Linked DNA regions of Homo sapiens: regions 1 and 3 are each linked to region 2. Evidence: fine-mapped expression QTL. A gene starts in region 2. Each other region holds a variant in brackets. All regions are shown on one strand. Distances are from middle to middle. Region 1 overlaps ACTN1 (actinin alpha 1). Region 2 holds the start of ACTN1 (actinin alpha 1). Region 3 overlaps ACTN1 (actinin alpha 1).

Evidence for each region. PIP is the estimated chance that this variant, and not a neighbour inherited with it, causes the effect. A credible set is the group of variants that fine-mapping cannot tell apart.
Region 1: its variant is the best candidate, but not a certain one, in a credible set for the expression of ACTN1 in whole blood (TOPMed, PIP 0.53).
Region 3: its variant is the best candidate, but not a certain one, in a credible set for the expression of ACTN1 in monocytes (TOPMed, PIP 0.76).

Annotation. Positions count from the first base shown.
Region 1 is chr14:68,919,324-68,924,323 of GRCh38, forward strand. ACTN1 (actinin alpha 1) reads right to left here. Exons shown (of 22, transcript NM_001130004.2): 3 at 1,683-1,802. Among named protein-coding and RNA genes, the nearest start is that of ACTN1, 57 kb to the right of the region's middle. RefSeq lists enhancers at 1,550-2,124, 4,657-5,000. The variant T/A (reference allele first, on the strand shown) is at 2,468.
Region 2 is chr14:68,976,708-68,982,038 of GRCh38, forward strand. ACTN1 (actinin alpha 1) reads right to left here and starts at 2,595. Exons shown (of 22, transcript NM_001130004.2): 1 at 2,245-2,595. The coding sequence starts at 2,349. ACTN1-DT (ACTN1 divergent transcript) reads left to right here and starts at 2,975. Exons shown (of 4, transcript NR_073422.1): 1 at 2,975-3,077; 2 at 3,221-3,480. RefSeq lists enhancers at 1,463-2,462, 2,463-3,461 and a silencer at 2,603-2,652.
Region 3 is chr14:68,925,668-68,930,667 of GRCh38, forward strand. It overlaps ACTN1 (actinin alpha 1), which reads right to left. Exons shown (of 22, transcript NM_001130004.2): 2 at 1-5. Among named protein-coding and RNA genes, the nearest start is that of ACTN1, 51 kb to the right of the region's middle. The variant C/A (reference allele first, on the strand shown) is at 2,636.

The DNA.
Region 1 (5,000 bases), 58 kb before region 2:
CTTCACAAATTCTCTACACTTCCCTGCCCCAGGGGCATCCGAGCCTGCACTAACCACCTGGGTGACTTTCTTTGGCTTCCCACGCCTGCTTAGTTATAACTTTTTCTGCCAAGTCTTGAATTGCTCCCTAATAAAGCAAACTGTTCTTTTCTTATTATAAGGCAGAGAACATCTTCCTCATCACAAAGCAGATTATACTGCTATATGTAAATCCTTTTAACATGTATTGAGCACCTACTGTGTGCATCATGCTGCTAGGAACTGGGGCCACAGGATGTAGAAACCAAGGTTTCTGCCTTTGAGAAGCTCACAGCTGGTGGGGGAGATGCTGGAATCCATAAGGCACCTTGCGTGACCACCTTGGGCACTGGCCTGAATTCCAGATAAGGCAGAGGTGAGCAAACTTTTTCTGTAGAGGGCCTGATAAGAAATGTTTCTGGCTCTATGATCCATATAAGCTCTGTAGCAACTACTCAACTCTGTCATTGCAGCACAAAGCCACTGATGATACATTAACACCGGTGTGCTGTGTTCCAATATTTCCAAAAATCCAAATCAGCCGGACTCGACCCCATGCACTGCAGTTTGCTGAGCCTGTGTTAAAGTTCTCCATTTGATAAATATCCCTCCATTTCTAGAAGAGAGGGGACTGTAAGCTTCAACCAGAGAAGAGATCTGCTCCTATGGACTTCCCAGGAGCAAGACCCCTGCCCCCTCCAAGGGAAGGCCACTCTCAGGGCATTCCTCTGGTGTCACGAAGACCTGCGTTTGAGTTCTGGCTTTGCCACTTACTGATGGCGGAACCTTGAGGAAGTCACGTAATCTCTTTAAGCATCTGTTTTCTTATGGCAAAATCAGGATAATTAATTCTTAGAGCTACCTCATAGGGTTGTTGTGAGGATTAAGTATATGCCACAGAGTGAGCAATCCATTCTCACAGCCACGATGTGTCTTGAATGAGTGAGATTCGTTCATCTTTAGGTCTCTGACATCACGCAGCAGGTGCCCCATAAATACTTGCTAAATCCATGGTCACAGGACTGAAGGGGCCTGGATAGAACATTTTCTGCCCACTCTAAACAACCCACTCTCAATTTTTCAGAGCCACCACCATGCACACAAGAAATTACACTACCTTCTTTTAATCATTAAGGAAATGCTAATAGCTTTTTTGGTAAGTGTTTCTAAGTAAAAGTTAAAGAGTTAGGAAGCTACACTGCAGGGAAATGCTATTAAAAATGTTCCTAGAGGCTTCGGGACTTCAGTCTTCCCAGGGCCCCGGGGAGTCTCGGGGCAGCCTCCAGCCTCCACCAGCCTGTGTCTGCACACCCTTTCCAGCCCATACACAAATCCTCTGCTCCAGGCAACACCGTGCAGTCAGGCCTCTGGATGGGGGAGGTGGCATGCCACACACACAGGACTCCACAGAGCAAGGACGTGGCTAAGCAGGTGCAGGCATGGGAACAGGGGTCTAAGTCCTTGGTTTTGGGCAGGGCTGAGACTAGAAGAAAAGCGCTGTTGCAATACAAAGCCTCCACAGGCGACCAGATGGAGGTGCTGGGGACCCACTGCCCAATGCCCCCAAGTGATGCATGGGCCCAGGAGGCAGCACAAAAAAGGCCAAGAGAACCAGGGGGACAAAGAAAATCAGGCTCCTTGGGGCCACCAGAGGTAGGCCTTACCTTCGGCTCCGATGGACACCAGTTTGACGCCTTTGCTGGCTATGAAATCCAGGGCCTTGTTGACGTTGGAGATCTTGTGCACTCTCATCTTGCCTCGCTCTGGCTTGGCCAAGCGTTCACCTGTTTGGATCAAGAGGGAGGAAGAGGAAGGTGAGACGCTATGAGCCAGGGGCCAGAGCTACTACCACTACACCCTCATCCAAAGCACAGCTTAGCTAGGCAGAAGCATGTGCATGTGTGCACGTGTGTGTGTGCTCACACGCTGCTCAGGGGCTGGAGAATGTCACCCTGGCAGGGAATGAGAGGGAGAATCTACCCTGCCTCTTCTTTCTTCTGCTTCTCAGGTCGAAATCTGCTTGCATCCACTCAACATTTATTTATCGAGCCCCTACCGCATGCCAGGGATTTGGCTGGGTGCTAGGAATAGGGGGGTGAACAAAACAGTTTCTTGCCTTTATGTAATTACAGTCCAGTAGGAGAGACAGACCTTAAATAGAGAAACACAAATAAATATATACAATGAACAAATACAAAGAAAGATCCATGCTCTTCAAAAGAGGAGGAGGAAGAGGAAGGAGGAACTGAGGAGTGGTCAGGAAAGGTCTGAGTCTTTGCAGCCAGGCAAACAAAGCAAGGAATGATGATCAAGGCAGAAGGAACAGTACATGCAAAGGCCCTGAACTCCTTCTAGCCTTCCCTTTGCCCTGGGAGGAGGGTATAGGTCACTCAAGTATTATGGACTTCCCTGGTGTTTAAATGGAGTTGCCTATAGCAGCCCATCCCCA[T/A]CTGAGAACCACAGTTCTTGTCCTATTATGCTGCCTCCTGTGGGCACCCAGGGCTCAGCTCCAGGTCAACCCTCCACCCCCACCTCCAGATTCCACACAGTAGCTTCTGCTGCTCAGGTTTCAAGGTCAGAACCTTTGAGAAAATAAAGGTAGAGGAGCTGGCTCTCCAAATACCCCATTAACAGCACTTTTATTCCAGAACAAAGAGCATCCAGGGGCCTCCTGAAATGATCTGAGAATTTTCTAAGTGCAGCATAGAGCCATACCTAGGGAAGGGGTATATAGCTTTCAGGGTCTCTAAGGGGCCAAGGACCCCAAAAGGCTGAGAACCACCATCGCAGAGCCTGGAATTCAGGCCCCTTGTGCCTGCCCTGATATCCCGACCACACCCACTGTCTCCCCAGCAGGTCGACAATCTGGCTGCGAGGACTCCAGGGACCAGCCACGGGGATTCTGGGCCAGGCCCACCCTGTCAGAGCAGCACCTCTCCAGGTGGCCTCCCAGCAGCCTGCTAGCTTCTGGAAGACGGCAGACTTCCTGCCACAGATGGGATCTGGCTGTCAGCTCCCAGGGAAGCACAGCTGTTTTTTAAATTAAATCAAGACTTTCCACTTGGGGCCCTCCCAAGGCTCTGGCTGCAACCCAGCAAGGTACCCCAGTATTTCCTGTCCGGGGGGAGATGGCACAGAGGCTCCCTCCCCACAGGATGGATGCAGGCAGCACCACGTCCCCTCCCTGGAAGGCTGCTCCTGTTACAGCCCCAGCCCTTGGGGCCTGTCCAGCTAAGCGGAGTGCCCCAGCCATTCAGCAGCTGTGCACACTGGCTGGAAGGGGGCTTCTGCAAAGGACAGTGGAGGAGGCAAGGGTTAAACACGGGAGAATGGAAAAAGCTTCCCAGGCCTGGGCCAGTGGTTCTCAAACGTCAGTCAGCACAAAATCACCTGGAGAACTGGCTAATCTGTGGCTGTCCAGCCCCTTTCCCCCTCTCACTAAGTTTGTGATTAGGAGGACTGGGTTAAGGTTTGGAAATCTGCATTTTGACAGGCAATCCTGCCGATTCTGGTGTGGGTAGTCCAAGGACCACACTTTGAGAACCTCTGTAGGCAGCATACCCCTCCTTCTCCTCATCCTGGGGCACCCTACCCATCTCCAACGATGATCAGGAGAAAAAGGTATCCCAGCATTTCCTGTCCAGGGGAGAACAGATCATTTCACAGAACAGATCTTTCCCAACCCTGGCAAAGAGACACATGCTTCACAGAAATGCACAGGTCCCCTGGGCACACGTCAGACCTATGCAGCAGGAACACACTGGGTATCATGAGGACAAGCCCGGCTCTGGGCACTCAGTCATTCTAATGTTCCCGGAGCACCGCCTACATGTCTGGTGCTGTTCTAAGCACCTGAGACACAGAGAGAAGATGACCTGCCCCAAGGAGCTCAGTGTGGAGCAGAGAAGAAAACAAGCGAACCGAAAATGACTACACTTTGTGATAAAAGACACAGCAGAGGAATTAATGGGGTATTATAGGTGCTGGGGAGCTGGGCAGGTAGGGGGGTGGTGCGGGCAGGGCACAGTCCACTCAGATTAGGGGAGAGAGGAAGGGTGAAGCCTTCTTGAAGGACACCCTCAAGCTGCATTTTGAAGAATGATAAATTGTAAGGCCAGATTTGTTTAAAACTGGGGAAGGGTAGTGGAGGAGGTAGGAAGCAGGGACATTCTAAAAGGCAGTTAGAGGCAAGGCACGGTGGCTCACACCTGCAATCCCAGCGCTTTGGGAGGCTGAGGTGGGAGGATCACCTGAGGTCAGGAGTTCAATACCAGCCTGGCCAACATGGTGGAACCCTATCTCAAAGAAAAAAGAAAATAAATAAATAAATAACGGCAGAGGAAAACAGCACGGTGGCTCCTCAAAAAATTAAACAGAGAATTCCCATGTGACCTAGCAGTTCCACTTTGGGGAATATACAAAAAAAGAACTGAAAGAGGGATTTTAAAAATATTTTGTACAACCATGTCCTAGCATTATTCACAATACCCAAAAGGTAGAAACAACCCAAGTGACCACCGACAGGTGAATGAACAAAATGTGGGGAGCCATTTTATAGCTGTAGGTCATACATACAATGGAATACGATTCAGCCATAAAAAGGAAAGGGATGGCGGCACATGCTCCAACATGGATGAACCGTGAAGACACAGTAAGTGAAATAAACCAGTGTCACAAAAGGAGAAATACTGTATGATTCCACTCGTACAAGGTATACCTAGAGTAGTCAAATCAGAGACAAAAAGTAGAATGGTGGTTGCCAGGGGAGGGCCGGGGGGAGCGGCGAGCTAGTGTTGAACAGCTGTAGGGTGTCAGTTTGAGACGATGAAGAGCCCTGAAGGTGGACGGTGGCGATGGCTGCACAACAGTCAGTGCATGCCCTTAATACCGCTGAACTGCACCCTTTAAAATGGCTAAAATGATACATTTTCTGTTATATATTATTTTACCACACACACAGGTTTTATCTGAAAGTAGAAAAA
Region 2 (5,331 bases):
AAACATGGCTGCATCCCAGCCCCACCAAACACAGTCTGGACTTGGAGCTGGTTACTTCCCCTCTCTGGCCCTGGTTTCCTAGTCCTTGTTCGTGCCTGGCACATATCAGCAAATGCCAGTTCTTGGCACTGTTGAGTTTGCCTCCAGGATAACCCAGTTTCCCAGACCACCTCTTCCTACCTGGCTGCCCAAAGGCCTGGGGCACACCCACTGCCACCCAGGTCAGAGCCCTGGGAATCTATATTCTTCTCCCCACTGCGTTTAATATATTCATTCATTCAGAAATATTAAATACGATGTTCAGGCCGGTGCTCAGTGTCTGTCCCCTAGGAACTTGGTCTCACAGTCCTTTCAGGGGCCTAGTTCCTAGGCAGCTCTGTTACTCCTGCCCCTCCCAGGCACAAAGCAGGTGCTCCCTAAGCAGGGATTTCTCCTTCGATTCTAACCCCCAGGGAAGACCCCAATCCACCACCCTAATCTCACTTCTAATTTAAAATCCATTCTCAAGAAGGCTTCACCCTGAAATTATTAAAGAGCCTTCTGCCTGGTGCCCCATAGGGATCTCCAAATTACTCACTCACTTTTCAGTTCCACCCACAGCACCCATGGTCCCAGGAAATAAGCCAAGTGAGTGGGGGACTGTCTGCAGCCCCCAGTCTTCAGCTCTTACTAGGAAGATGACAGGAAGAGGGGGAGTTTAAGCAACTGGCACATTACAAAGAAGTCAGTTCGAAGTCAGGGGACCTTCCCATGTCCGATGTAGATGACCGATGTCGCTGTATAGGGCCCAGCCCTGCATAGGCCTTGGGCACCGCGGCCCAGGTCATCCTGCTTTGAGGAAGCCCATTGTGTGTGTTTTAGATTACCTCTGCCTGTCTGATGAAGTGAGTAAAAGGGCTCCGTTTCAGGGCCTAGGATTCCTGAGTGAGCTAATACAGGATGCCTTTGGCTGAAAAAAAAAACTTCAGTCGGCTCTATAAACTACCCCCCTTTTAAGTTTAAAAAAGGGAATGAATGTTACCATTTTTGGACATGAGCGTTCTCCCTCAAGCCCAGCCCTAACCGCACTATCCAAAGGGACGCGCCATCCTGTCCCCCCCCCACCCAAAACCCCATTCCCAGATCAGCCTGGGGGTGGGGAGGGTATGAAACGGGGAGGGACCGGATGGAAGTGGGCAGCCGGGAGGAGGGGGAGGGAAAGGGGTATTCAGGGTACGTGGCCGCCTGGGGGCACAGGCTCACCGCGCAGGCAGGAAGCAGCGGTAGGGTTGAGGCGCCCTCCCCCCACCACCACGAGTGGTTTCTGACCTCTTCCTGCCACTGGCCACTGTGCCCGGGTCCCATCGCCAGCTCCGAGCCCAGCTCCCGTGGCGGGGCGCGCACCCGGCACACCGCGCCTGCCTGGGATGCAGCTCCGTGGCTAAGTAGGGATCCCCAGTGACTGGCCCCAAATATCCCCTAAGACTGACCCTCGTTCTGCAGCCCCTCAACTCGAACCGAGCTGCCCACCTTTCCCGGGGGTCGGAGGGGCAGGACGTAGCGCAAGCCCATGTCGGGGTTACAGCTTCCAACCCACTGAGTTAAGCAATAAAACGGTCTGCTGTCCTGACCCCGCCCCCACAGGGCCCGCGGGGGAGCCCGCGTACGCCCCCCAGTTTTCTCGTCCCCAGCCGCACTCCAGCTGGTCCTTCTCCAGGCAGATCCGGAGGCGGCCGCCGATCTCTCCGGCGCTCTCCCCTCCGCCTAAGGGGCAGCAGGGTCCCGGGAGGCCCGCCGCTCAGGTTGAACCCAGGGCGGCCCAGGAAGCGGCGCTGCCACCGCACGCCATATGGAGAGGTGGCCAGGGGCGGAAGAAAAGGGAAAATCGATCCGGAGCAAGCAGCCCCGAGCCGGGGTCTCAGCCCCAGCCTGAAGACCACCGCCCCCGAGCACAGCCCACGCGGGGATGGTTGCAACAGCCGCAGGGTGGCCTGGACCACGGACCCCCAAGGAGACCTGCCCGCCAGCGGCGCCACCTCCCCGCGCTCCGGCCCGGCGTTCCCGGGCTCCGGGGCAGGGGCGCTCCCGCTTCCGCCAGGCGCCTGTAACCCAACACCCCACCTCGCAACGGCCGCACCGCCCCCGCCCCCTCCCGTGCGCGCCCGGAACCGGTTCAGAGCCCGGAGCCGAGAGCCCGGCAGGCAGAGCGGGTCGGGGCTGGGGGCTGGGGGCTGGGGGCTGCAGCGGGCGGGGGCGGCTGCTAACCTTTCTCTGCTGCTTCTCCCAGGCCGGGTCCAGGAGCAGGTCCCGGTCCCAGTCCTCTTCTGGCTGCATGTAATCGTTGGTTTGCTGAGAATCATAATGGTCCATGATGGTGCGCGCGTGCTAGGGTCTGGATTTCTTCCTCCACCTTCTCTCTGAGCAACGGCTGCTGCCCTGGCGTGGGGAGGGAGTAGGGCTGGGCTGGGCTGGGCTGGCGGGGCCGGGCTCGCTCCCCTGCGCCCGGTTCCGCCGCGGCGCTGCTGGCGAAGGCTGCTACTGGCGGCGACAGCGGCGGCTGGGCTCGCGGACTGCCTGCCTCTGGGCGGGCGCTTGGACCTAATCTCCACGCACACTGAACTAGGCGGACACACTAGCGCTGCGGGAGCCGAGGCGGGCGGGGGCGGGGGGAAGGGGCAGAGCCCTCCCGAGGCTCTCCATTGGCCAGGCCGAGTTGCCCAAACTTCCCCCCATCGCCTCTCATTGGGAATTCCTGGCATCCGTCAGCCGGGCTGCGGCGCATATAGGTGGACTGGGCGGCCCCCTCCCGGCGCGCACACCCCCGCCCACTCCCGCGGTGCCCGTTCCCCCGCGGCTCATGTGACGCCAGCTTAAGCTGAACGGGACCGAAGCCGGGAGACGCCTCCCCGAGCTCGGGGACTGAGTGGCAGCGCGCTTGGGAACCCCAGGAGCCGCCGGGATTGGACCCGTTCCCCGCCACCGTTATTGCGCTCCCACGCGCGCTCCAAACCCCGGGGTGGGAGGGGGCTGGAGAAAGGACGCGAGGAAACCCGAAGAACATTCATTTTCTCTTTCCCAGGGAACCTGGGTCTGGGCAGGTCGGCACCCTAGGAAAGGGGGCGGAGTGGGGCAATGGAAAGGAATTTCTTGGGAATTTCACGACTCCACCGCCGCCCCCCCCGGCCCCGCCCCACCCCACCCCACCCTACAAGGCGCGACCCGGCTGATCCCTGCCCTGCAGGAACCCGGTTTCTCGCCAGCGAACTGCTCTCAGAGGCTACCGAGCGTTCCCGCCTCGCCGCAGGAACTCTTCTAGCTCGCCCTCGGGCTCTGGGGACCGCTCCACAGCGGGGCCTCCCGGAATTCCCTGCCGGTCTCCGCGGGCACACTTGGCTGGCTGCTGCGACCAAAACTACCTTCGCGTGGCAGGGTCCTCCCTCCTCCTCACAGACACCCCGACATCACCCTCAAAACTGGAAGGGACAACCCCGAGTGATCTAGGTAAATCTACTCCGTACCCCCCTCCCACATACACACGCCTGACAGATGGGGAAACTGAGGCTCAAAGAGCCGAGCGCGGAAAGAGCTTCTGGACTTCACAGGCCAATCCGGTAACCTTATGCCTGACAAACAAAACCTTATTGTCATTGGAGGAGGATGGAGGGCGGGAGTGACTAAATAGCTCTAACTTCTGCTTGCCACCTGCCAGGACTCCTTTCCCTGGGCTTAGTAAGAGGAGAGTCTAAACGCGCTAATGCCCGGGAAGGAGCAGGCCTCGCGTTCTGGCAGGCTCCTCTATGGGATCCCGGTTCCGAAGAACAGTAGCAAATAAACCTCTCCTAGGTTATGCACTGTCTTGTGAACAACAGATGTGCCAGTCTTCCACCCCAGCACCCAGCACATAGTAGAGCTTAATTTATGGATTTGAGGCTGGCCACGGTGGCGGTGGCTCACACCTGTAATCCCAGCACTTTGAGAGGCTGAGGCGGGCAGATCGCTTGAGCCCAGGAGTTGGAGACCAGCCTGGCCAACGTGGCAAAACCCCGTCCTTACTAAAAATACAAAAATCAGCCGGGCATGGTGGTACACGCCTGTAGTCCCAGCTACTTGGGAAGCTGAGGCGGGAGACTCCCTTGAGCCTGGGAGGTCGAGGTTGCAGTGAGGTGCATTTTCACCATTGCACTCCGGCCTGGGTGACAAAACAAGACTGTCTCAAAATATATACATACATATATGCATTTGGCCCTTTATATCCACAGGCTTCAGAACCCGCAGATACCCAGGCTGACTGTGAGGGACTTGAGCATCCTCAGATTTTGGTATCCATGGGGATGCTGAAACCAATACCCTGCCAATACTAAGGGAGGACTGTATTTGTAGGATGAATGGCTGCATCAACTGCAAAAATTTAAATTTAAATTTAAATTTAAAATGCAAATATGTCAATTCAGAAGTGAGTGAAGGAGTTAGAAGAAGAAGTTCACTGACAGGAAGGGCCCTGAATTATGGGCTGGATTTTGTCCTCTACCTTCTCTCCAGGCGATGGTGGATACCTGAAAGCCACCCATGGAAAAGGTGAAGAAAGTGCCCCCTGGTTCTCAGAAGAGCCACTGCTGCTGTTGTGAGCAGATATCGGATGGTGTCTCTGGCTGCATCATTCGTCAACCACACATATTCATATGAGTGTTACCCTCCAGCACTGTGCCTTCCAAAAGCCCCTGGCTGAGGAAGCACTGCTTCTGAGCCACAGAGACAGCTGATTTATGGACCATTTTATCACCGCTTCTAAACTGTGGCTCTAAACCTAACACAGAGGGTAATGGTAGTGCTGTATCCATTCATTCACCCAATAAATATTTGCTGAGCACCATCTGCATATCAGGGAATGTACTAGATGTATACAGAGATGAAAAAGCCATAGTCCCTGTCGCACACAGCCCAGCAGACAGACACAGAAACAAAAATATGATGTCATGAGTTAGACGCAAGGAGAGAGATCTGACAAGTGTACTGTTGGAACAGATGAGGGGCACTGAACCCCGTGGGAAAGGAGGCTCCAGGCTTAACTTTTTGGAGGAGGTGAAACTTAAGTGAACGTTAAAGAATGAGAGTCAGCCAGATAAAGAGTGTGGGAAGTTACTCCAGAAGGAAGGACCAGCACAAGCTAATGCACAAGGACAGGAAACTGCATGGTATACAAAGGAATGTCTAGCATCTCAACGTGGCTGGACTAGAAATCCAAGGCCGGGAGGGGCAAGAGACGGGGCTAGAGAGGTGCAAAGCAGCCAGACCATGAAGGCCTCATGTGCCAGGTGGAGTGTGGATCTAAGGGGAGCAAGGCTGGCTGGAAGC
Region 3 (5,000 bases), 51 kb before region 2:
AATGTCTGGGCAGAGACAAGAAGGGCAAGTGGTCAGGGGGCTGGTGTTGTCACCCTCATTGGACAAGCCATTTAATGGTGCCAGGGGGTGGGAGGTGGACACCTACTCAGCAGAGCCTCTCAACACAGTTGCCCCACCATGGTCTCATTCACTGCATCAACCAAGCACTGAGCTACCCACAGGGCAGCAGCTGAGGGACCCTACACAGAGCCTGCTACATGGGTGGGAGCAAGCAGGATACATGAAGCAGCAAATTCCCTTAACATCCGCCTCCCAGCCCTCTCTCAAAGACTCATGCCCACCCACATTTGAAAATGCCACAATTCCATTCTTACAAGTTACCTCTTAAGTTATAAGACTTAGTTTCAATCTTCACAGTTTTAAGACAGAGTAACCCCGAAGGAACATATTAAGCCCTGTTGATACCTTAGGGTAAATTAGTATATTAAATCCTTTCTCACTTGGCAGCCAGCTAAGAGAAAGGAGTAGTAAGTTTTGCTGAGAACAGAATTCAGATGCAGGGTGTCAGGACAAGGGAGAAGAGTAAGCACCCCAATGTGTATCTGTGTGTGCTTTGGGTGGGGATAGGGGCACCCTAAGCTGCAAAAGCATGAAGAGTTCCAGAAAGGGAATGTAAGGAGGTCAAATCAAAGACCATCAGCTTCATAGTTACTTCTCTATTAAGCAGATTATGATCAGGTGAGGCAGCAACTAAGCCATCCTGTGCCAACAGCACCAGCTAGTGGCTCAAACAGGAAGAGGGTGTCTCAACAAACATGAGAAACAAAAGCATGCATCGCAGTTTTACATGTCCATCTAAAACAGGTGTCTCTCTCCAGCTGTCTCCACTCTGTGGCAACCAGAGAGAAGAGCTCCCTTGCTTTAGATCTAAACCATTCATTGGCAACTCCAGACTTCTCTGCACCAAATGGCACTACCAATTACATGGGGCTCACCCAACACCAGAGCCATTCAGCTCTCTTCCCACCTGCCCTGCAAAATTCAAAGGATGGGCAGTGTATCATTCATGTGACAGTAGGAGCCACACTAGAAATACTCTTCCTCATGGGAAAGGTCACAGCTTCATGCTCCCCAATCCCTTCCTCCTGCCCTGGGGAACTCTAAAGGTGAAGTGGCAATAAGTGGGTAGGAAGAGGGAAGAACATCACACCAGCGAGTATCAGGGGAAAAGAAATAGCTGCTTAGATTTAGGAGCAAAAGTTGAAGAGCCTATGAACAAGAAAGGGAACAGGGGGACAGAAGCTATCCCTCCACACAGGCGGGGAGAAAGGGACAGCATTATGATACCCTGTGACTTTGGGCTTAATTTTTCAATCATGTCTCACTAGTAACTTACCAATATGGAATACCTCTCTCTCCCTGCAAACATATCTCCACTCTGCAGGCCAGCCTACTCCCATGATGAAGAGAAACGGCGTATTGTGCTATCCCAGAGCTCTGGGAAGACTGGCACACAGATCAGGGTAGATAGGGGACATACACTGATTTCCAATGTCCTCTCTATCTTGCTTAACTAACTCACTCATCTTTCAAGACTGGGTAGAGATATCACCTCCTCCAGGAAGCCTTCCTGATAGCCACCTGCTCTGTCTGGGCTGGACACACACCCATAGCACCCTGCATTCACCCATTATGCCTAGCCACTTGTCAGCTCCACACCCCCAGCCTGGGAGCTCTTGGAGGTAGAAACTCAATGTTCACCTTTATATCCCAGAGACCCAGGGCACAGAGTCAGGGACACAGCAGTGAACTAAACAGCAAAAGTCCCTGCCTCTGTGCAGCAGACATTCTAGTGGACGTAAGAATTGGGCAGCCAGGTGAAGGAACAAGTGGGGAACTGGATGCAAAGCTGAGAGGGTCCTGGGAGATCCAACTGCACCTTGTGGGTGAGGCTGAATGCTCTCAGGGCAGGGGGTGATGGGACAAACAGTGCTCTTAGGGACCCCCTGGACACAGAAGACAGCTCGGAGGAAAGAGGACGCAGCAGGACAGGGAAGCGTATGTACCAAGCATCCTTCCTCCGCTGCTGGCACTGCAGGAGATGAGAGGGCCTTTAGCCTTTATCCTTATTTTAACTTCTTTTTATTGGTAGAAAAATATTAAAGGATTTTTAACTCTTTAAAACAAATATAATTTACTTTGGTTTTGCACATTCTCTCCCAGCTGACACTGGTCTGCCCAGTGTCTTCAAGCTGTGCGTTCACACTTGAGTGTGCGTTGACACTGGGGTGGGTGGTCTTTTCTCATTTATCACCATCTTGGCCATCCCCAGCACCCACTCCCAGTCCCCCAGCACTGAACCTTCAGCCTAAGGTTTTCTATTTCCTTGAGGGGAACTGTGTCAGCCCCAGCAACTCGAAGGGATGCTTTCAGGTCCAATGTGGCCTGAAACATCCAGGGTCCTAGCAGGCACTGCCCTGAGCCCACCCGCCCAGCTGGGGGCTATAAATTCTCACTGTTTACTACCCAGTCGTGGAGGGGGTTGGGATGAGATAAAGGAGGAAGAGGCTGCTGTCGTAAAAAGACACTGCTTTTGAAAGAGGAAAAGTGCTGTTGAAAGCAGCCAGCCCCCTTTCCTGGAAAAGCCAGGCTCAGCCCTGGGAAACAAAACACA[C/A]CTATGTTTGCTCAGGTCTCCTGGACAAAGCCCTGGAACATGGCTTTACTAAAACCCCCAATCCTCAGAGGCCCCATAGATTACTGCCTTGAAGGGGGCTCTGGGCACCTCTCAAACTGGAAAGTTTCCCCAACAAGCAGCAGCCACCGCAAAGTTTAGGCTAGAGGAGGAAATGGTGGCTGTGACCCGGTGATCAACAACATGCACTTCGGGACGCATCAGAGCTGGATTCAGTTCTCAGATCCACTATTTACTGGCTGTGTGACCTTCAGATTAACCTTCCTAAACTTCAGTTCCCTTTGCAGTAAAACAGGGATAGTAACAGCGCTCCATAAAAGTTAAAAAGATTAACTCAAAAACATCTGTAAAAAACTTGCCATTTAGTAAGTGCTCAGTGAACAGTGGGGAGGAGGAAGATGACAGGACTAGCTCCCCCAAAATGATCCCGGGACCAGGTCTCAGAGGACTTGCTCTTGCTCCTCTGCACTCCCACCCCACATCCTCTCCCTGCCCCCAGCCACCAAACTCTCCTGTCGTAGGTCCCACCCCACCACGCGCTGTACTGTTTCCAAGATGACAACATGCGAGCTCTTTTTTGCACCGGTGCTGGTGTGTTCGTGGGAGAGGGCTGGAACTGTGGTGAGTTCCTGGGAGAGGGGTGGAACTGTGGTGAGTTCCTGGGAGAGGGGTGGAACTGTGGCACATTCGTGGGAGAGGGCTGGAACTGTGGCGGGTTCGTGGGAGAGGGCTGGAACTGTGGCGGGTTCGTGGGAGAGGGCTGGAACTGTGGTGCGTTCGTGGGAGAGGGCTGGAACAGTGGCGTGGGTGCAGAAAACCAGGGATTTTGACAGTGGCCTTGTGCACCTCCGCAGAGGAGGTCTGACAGCTGAACGCACACCATACAACTATATCCTCCCCTCCAGCCTGGGGCAGCCTTGGTCTTGAGGCTCAAGCTCCAGCATGAGGGGGTGGCACCTGCTCCTTAGCAGTGCTCCAGGGGTCCAGCAAGGAGAGGAAGGTCAAAGCCACAGGAGAGGCCCATGCTAGAGACCCACGGCCCCAAGACCTCCAGCCTGGACGCCCAGCGTGGTGGGGAGTGCTACCCCGGCAGGTTTGTGGCCCAGCCGCATTCAAACAAAGGGTACAGGGCCATGTTACTGCTCAGCCCGATGAAGCCCTGCCCTATCTGGCCTCCCCTCACCCCAAGAGCCATCTTCAAGTCACCTCCTTGGGCCATACTCAGGCTCACAGCCTGACAAAGGAGATCCGGGATGGCAGGTCTTCAGTGGATACACTCCGTTCCAGAAATGGCTTCAGGGATGCCGAGAGGTCCCAGGAAAAGTCCTTGGGACCAAGGACCACACTGGGATGTTCCCGCAGAGCAGCGGCAACGGCCTGTTCCCCTCTCAGCAGCCCTGTCTGCACTCCACCTGCCCCGGCCCTGCAGAGTCTCTGAGGACCCGGGACAGAGGGAGGGGCCGCAAAACAGCCTGGACCCCTGCTCAGCCTCTCAATGACCTCGAAGCCACTGCCCATGTCTAATCCAGTTTGAAGGTGGTTTGAGGAGGTGGAGAGTGCAACTGTCCAGCCCTGTAGTTCAGGGTTGCAAAGAGGGACCTGGCCAGGCGCCAACAGAGGGGCCCCAGCCCAGGCTAGGAGCCATGGAGCTGGCCATGGAGACAGAATCACATTGTCCACCTTCTGTACAGGTCTCATAGCCTTGCTCTCACAGACTCCGCTAACCTCTTTTCGTCACATCTTTCACAATTATCATGTGATATACTTCCTTTAAAATGTGTTGGAAAGGAATATGGCTTTTGAGAACGTGCCTTCCCTGCCCCCAAGCTCAGACAGACACACTGCAATGTTTCTTTAGCCACAACAGGCCTCTTTGAGCCTCAGTTTTCAAGTCTGTAAAATGGGGGACAATAGCATCTCCCAGGCATGACTGACAGGAAGTACCCTTATTCAGTAAATAATTTTAGCATAGTAATGTTGTTAATTTATGTGAATAATGACAATATAGTATCAATGTGTCTGAAATATAGTAAGTGTGCAGAAAGTGGTAGTTCCTACCGTCATCATCACTGCCTGAATTTTAGATTCTAAAAGGATGTCTGAATAATCACACTCTGCAAGGAGCTGGGGTACAGAAGATTACCCCAGAAGCATGAGTTAGGGGATGAGCTTTTACAATCAAGCATCCTTCATACCCTTGGTCATGGGGAGAGGGAGAGGTAAATCACAAGACCCTAAAGCAGGAGGGCCATGGGATTCACTCGGATCACTCTGCAGAAAAGTATCCATGGGAATGCAAGGATTTAGTCACTCTAAAGAAGACTGCAAATCCAGGCCTATCAGCTTC